Regions from separate parts of the Homo sapiens genome. Here region 1 is linked to region 2. A link means that fine-mapping ties the variant in region 2 to the expression of a gene that starts in the linked region. Tissue or cell type: prefrontal cortex. Region 2 holds a variant in brackets; the other region holds the start of a gene. All regions are shown on one strand. Distances are between the middles of the regions.

Region 1 (2,682 bases), 120 kb before region 2:
GGAAGATCTACAGTTTGCACAGGTTGGTACAGCAAATTGCTCTCTGGACCTGCCATTGAAACAGTCACCACAATAAATAAAGAAAATTCTAAGAGTCCTGCATTTGGGAAGTTTACTATCAATGGCTAGGTCTACTCTTGGTGGTATTGTGAGTGCATGGGTCCAGACTTATGATTCTGACAATTAAGGGAAAAGGAATTGTCTTTATGCTCTGTGTATTTGTGTATGTGTGTGGCATGGGTGGGGGGCGGGTAGTGGGGAGGAGGTGAAAGGTCCCTGAAGTAAAGAGGATGCACAGGACCCTTTTATTTTAGTCCCTAAAAATTGGCTTCATAACCGTTCACAGGCCACATCCCTTTTACGGGCCCTGGTTTCCTTACAAAACATAAAAGGTTTGTGTTGGAAGGGGAAAGGAGTATTTAAAGTGATGGAGGAGAGGAGCTCAAGATGGCTGAGATCTGGGCCTGTCCAACATTGAGAAATTTGGGAGGGGAGCCATCAAAGAAGCCTGGGAGCAGCAGTTCCAGGGAAAAAGGAGAATGTGATGGCCAGAGAGCCAAAAGAAAAAGTAGTTGAAGGAGTGCTCAGCACTAGGCATCTGAACTGAATGCTGTGGCAGGCTCACTGGCCACAAACAATAGGGAGCTGGTGGAGGCCTTGACGAGGACCATTTCAACAAACTGGTGGGCTTAAAATCCGGAAGAAACAGTTGAACAAATCATTTTGACGCCTTTTATAAACCACACAAGCTTATTCCAAACCCGTTACTGGCCTAACTGATTTAAGTCCCTTTCCCATCTGATCCTCAGAGATTCTAAGGGACTTAGCCTATCCATGACTCTTCGTCCTGCTTCTCACCTCCCATGATTGCCCTAACGATGTGAAAGTGCTTTCAAACAAAGATGCCCAAGAAAGAAGGTAGGCAAATGTGCAAGCATTAGTTTGTAGTACGCTATTACTGTATTTCACCTTGCACTCTCTAGTTTCCTTCGTGCTCCCTCAATATCCAACTCTTAATAAATTCATGGCTCCCGGTGAGCATTCATCAATTCTCATTCCACGCCTTTAGCCCTTCCCGTTCCCGCCCAACTCTCGCTCCCTCCCCTGGCCAAATCTCTAACCTGCAAGGCTAATTCCGAATTCCAAATCGGAAGCAAGAGGGCGGGGCCCCGTGAGAGGCGATGGATTGCTCCAGTCCGTTCCCGACGCACTGTGCGCATGCGCTGGTCCTCCGCGGACCGTTCGTGCTGCCCGCCTAGAAAGGGTGAAGTGGTTGTTTCCGTGACGGACTGAGTACGGGTGCCTGTCAGGCTCTTGCGGAAGTCCATGCGCCATTGGGAGGGCCTCGGCCGCGGCTCTGTGCCCTTGCTGCTGAGGGCCACTTCCTGGGTCATTCCTGGACCGGGAGCCGGGCTGGGGCTCACACGGGGGCTCCCGCGTGGCCGTCTCGGCGCCTGCGTGACCTCCCCGCCGGCGGGATGTGGCGACTACGTCGGGCCGCTGTGGCCTGGTAAGTGCAGGCTCTAATCTGGCCCCGTTAATTCTGGGGCCTCTTGAGAGTGGGGCTGTCTTATCTCTATCTCCAAAAATGTGCAGGTGACTCTCAGGCCAGGCCGACGGCAGTTGGAGAATTCCCAGATGTTCTTGAGGACCCAGAATGACAGGAGCCCTGGCTGGGCTTACGTTCGGAGCCGGCTTCAATACTGGCCCTTTTCTCTGGCCCTACCCAACCCGAAAATTCTGGACGCCTCTCAATCTTGGCCCGTCTCTATTGTCCTTTTGTCTCTGCCCTTTACACCCTTGTGTCTTCAGTGTTCTGTCTGTCTCTGGTTGCCTCTTTTGCCTTTTTTCTGTCCTCTCCCTGCCAGGTTTGGCTCTGTCCATGAGTCACCTCTCTCCACATTTCTCCTAACTCTCGGTGTCTTCTTTTTCTTCCATTTCCACGCCATGTGTACATTGCATCTTCAGGTACCTGGGCTCTTCTATCGGGGAAAGGGGCGTCCGTCTCTTTCCCTAGCCCGCTGATAGAAGTCAGAACTAGAGCAATGACGCACACGGTGTCAGAGACGGTGATTCGAGATGCCCTTTCAATAGCAGCTTTTTTCTGTGTTTCGGGAGGGAGACTTACTTTTTGATGCAAGGTCGTGAACGTGGCACCACCTTTCTAATCTCAATCATTGTTGCCCTGGGGTGGTTTAATTCTAAATAGAAAATCATAGAAATCTTTTCATTTCTGTGCGTTACTATATGCATTGTAATGAGATTAAATTGGATTTTATAGGAAATTTTGTTCTAGTATCATTAGATACCTTCAAGCTTAGCTCATTGTTGCAGGCATTTGATAGGAAGTAAGATGCATCAAGCAAAATTGGAAAAACGTGGTTTTCCTGAATTAACTTCTAAGCAGTTGTTTTGAATTTTTTCCAGACCTTTTTAAGTGGTATAGATAATTTATCGTGTTTATAAGGAATGGAATGCATTCGTTAGTTTGTTTTTGTTTTGTTTTGAGACGGAGTCTTGCTCTGTCGTCCAGGCTGGAGTGCAGTAGCGCTATCTCGGCTCACTGCAACCTCCGCCTCCCAGGTTCAAGCAATTCTCCTGTCTCCGCCTCCGGAGTAGCTGGAATTACAGGCACGCGCCAGCACGCCTAGCTAATTTTTGTATTTTTAGTAGAGAGGGGGT
Region 2 (2,682 bases):
TATTATTATGACACTATGTTGGTTTAAATTAAGATCCATCAATAATTGTTTCCAAACCAAAAACAAGAATGGCATCAGAAATATTGATGGAATTGGCCAGATGCGGTGGCTTATGCCTGTAATCCCAGCACTTTGGGAGGCCAAGGTCCAACATGGTGAAACCCCATTTCTACTACAAATACAAAAATTAGCCGGGCGTGGTGGCGGGTGCCTGTATTCCCAGCTACTCAGGAGGCTGAGGCAGGAGAATCGCTTGAACCAGGGAGACGGAGGTTGCAGTGAGCTGAGATGGCACAACTGCACTCCAGCCTGGGTGACGGAGTAAGACTCCATCTCAAAAACAAAAAAAAAGAAAAAGAAATATTGATGGAATCTTGCCCCTCTCCTGCACTGTCTACTCACCTATGCTGACACAAGTACAATTTATTCTCCAGAGGTGTTTCCTCCACTCTTTCTGCTAAGCAAAGGGTTAGCAGACATTTCAGTGGCCTCTGCTTCCAGTCAGGGCCCAGCTCTGCTCTGTGGAGCCACCGCTGCTCCAACTGCTCTGCTGGTGCTGGTGCTACGGGCTTGGGCCTGGAAGAGTGAACAGTCCAGTTCACAGCCCAAGTCCTGAGCATTCATGTCTGTTCAGGAGAGGCCCTTAAGGGTGTTGCCTGTGTGGCACCAACTCAATAAGCTGCACTTACAGATTCTGAAGAAAACGTAGGCTGTCATGTGGGTCTGTATTTTTCTTAAGAAGATGCAGAGGATTCAGGTCCAACTCATTTAGCATTGCTAAGTGAAACTCTTACCTTTGGCGCAGGGATGTTAATGATGACATTGTTAATGCGGCACACCAGTGTTTTTGTTCCAGGACCCACGGTTGATAGAGAACCCAGCATCAGGAAGAACTGCGCCACCCCTGAGCAAATGCTTTGTGCCTGCCTTCTATTGACCATTTTTCTCCTTTTACTTTGGCTGCTAGGAAGCCCAAAACTAAATTATCAGCCTATCCTTGCTCTCATATGGAGCCTTACATTATATGTCTTATAACCCCCTAGAAAGATGGACCCTTTCATCAGAAAAGCAGATTCAGTCCTTAATTTCATGGTATTAAATTTTTCCTTGACTTGATTTCACCTTGCTCCCTTTTTTTCCTCATGTAACTTTGATTTCTTCATCTGCATTATTGTGGGAATTTCCAAAAGTGACCTTAGATCCTTTTGTCCAATGAAGTAAAGTGTGAACTTAAACATGCAACTACCAGTGAGTCGGTCAGCAAGTTCCCTCGTGTGTACTGAAGGGAGTTCAGCAAGTTCCCTCGTGTGAAACTGCCCCTTTCTAAGGGGCAGGTTGCATGTCTGTAACTTCTTTCTTGTTATTTCTTTTAACTCTTCTATGACATAGGGACATGGATTAGTGAGGGAAAGCAGCATAGCAGTGCCTTATGAAAATCCAGTTCTTCTTCTAGTCTATGCGAATAGCCGAAAAGCCAGCAGGGACCCAGAGGCC[G/A]CGGAGCCGGACCGCAGAGTGGAGGCCAGGCCGGTGGGCAGGAGGAGGTGGGAACACCGAAGGCCGCCAGGACTGAATCCGCTTCTCTAATGAAAGGGCCCTTTTTTCCAGGGGATTATAAGAATATTCATGACCCTTGAGATCAGCAGGTGAGGCTCAGCCCTCCCTACTCATCCTTTGGGCAAATAGTTCAGAAAGCCGAGGTTGCCAGGATGAGAAAGAAACAGTGGGAGTTGGGAGCTCTTCCCGCTTCCCTTGGCCCCCAACCCCCTTTCATTTTCAGAGGAGGGCAGGGTGGGGGCACTTGTCCTGAGGTGAATCAAGGACTGTGTCTTTCATTTCCAAAGAGCAGGCAGCGAGGCTGAGGCAGAAGTCCCGTGACATGACTTGAGACACAAAATGGTATCTTAGCATCGAAGACTCCCTTTGACAAGAAGAAGAAAAGCCCTTTTCTTCCCAGCCCGGATTAGGCGAGGAGGGAATTCTCCGGAACATGTGTGCATTGTTTCGTGGAGGGCAGCCAGGCTGGCCTGGGGCTTGCCTCCCAAAGTCAGCCCAAGGAAGCTTGTCCTCGTGTAATTAAAAGGGAAGGGAAACAGCAGGGGGTCTTGTTCCGCTGCTGCCCACCAAAGTGGGGTCCCCGGGGGATGGTGCGGCCCAGGAAATTGGCTAAATTAATGGTTATGGGAGGCCTCCCTGAATGTGTGGGCCCTGGAGGCAGAAAGAGGGCAGGGCAGGGAGTCTCATCAGAGCCTTTCTGATAAAAATGGGAGAAAGAGAAATGCTCTCAGGGCAGGGGTGTCTAAGCTCTTGCCCCCTGACTGGGCATCCAGGCTGCCCTCGGGACACAGCACCTGAGGTGAGGGGTCAGCCCCTTGTGGAAAGCAGAGCCTCCGGGCAGTGTGTCCAGGCCCTCCCTGTCCAGCTGATGCAGGCTGGCCCCTCACATTCTCCAGCTGACAGCCAGGCCGGGAGCGAGGAGGTCACAGGTCATGGCCGGGCACTGGGGCCCTGGAGCTCACAAAGCGGGAGCTGCTTCCCTGGGCAACATGAGTTTCTGGAAAGCAGTCTCTTGTATTTGTCAATGGTACAGTGTCTCACTCAGAAATTATCGGGAAAAGTGAAACCCTGAACTGGAAGCCAACGTCTTAGGCATTTATAAGGTTTAACCCATTTATGAAGAAGAAA

Direction of the effects. Positions count from the first base shown, and alleles are read on the strand shown. Sizes are in standard deviations (SD) of each study's normalised expression.
For the expression in prefrontal cortex of the gene that starts at base 1,309 in region 1, G is the low allele of the variant in region 2 and A is the other (small effect, 0.19 SD a copy in ROSMAP).

The links. PIP is the estimated chance that this variant, and not a neighbour inherited with it, causes the effect.
Region 1: it holds the start of OPA1, and the variant in region 2 is fine-mapped to the expression of OPA1 in prefrontal cortex (ROSMAP, PIP 0.95).

Annotation. Positions count from the first base shown.
Region 1 is chr3:193,591,900-193,594,581 of GRCh38, forward strand. It overlaps OPA1 (OPA1 mitochondrial dynamin like GTPase), which reads left to right and starts at 1,309. Exons shown (of 31, transcript NM_130837.3): 1 at 1,309-1,510. The coding sequence starts at 1,479. It also overlaps a transcript of ATP13A4 not described here. RefSeq lists enhancers at 971-1,622, 1,018-1,087, 1,138-1,187, 1,623-2,274, 1,788-1,867 and a silencer at 1,408-1,557.
Region 2 is chr3:193,709,211-193,711,892 of GRCh38, forward strand. No RefSeq gene overlaps it. Among named protein-coding and RNA genes, the nearest start is that of OPA1-AS1, 83 kb to the left of the region's middle. RefSeq lists enhancers at 1,000-1,935, 1,936-2,682. The variant G/A (reference allele first, on the strand shown) is at 1,495.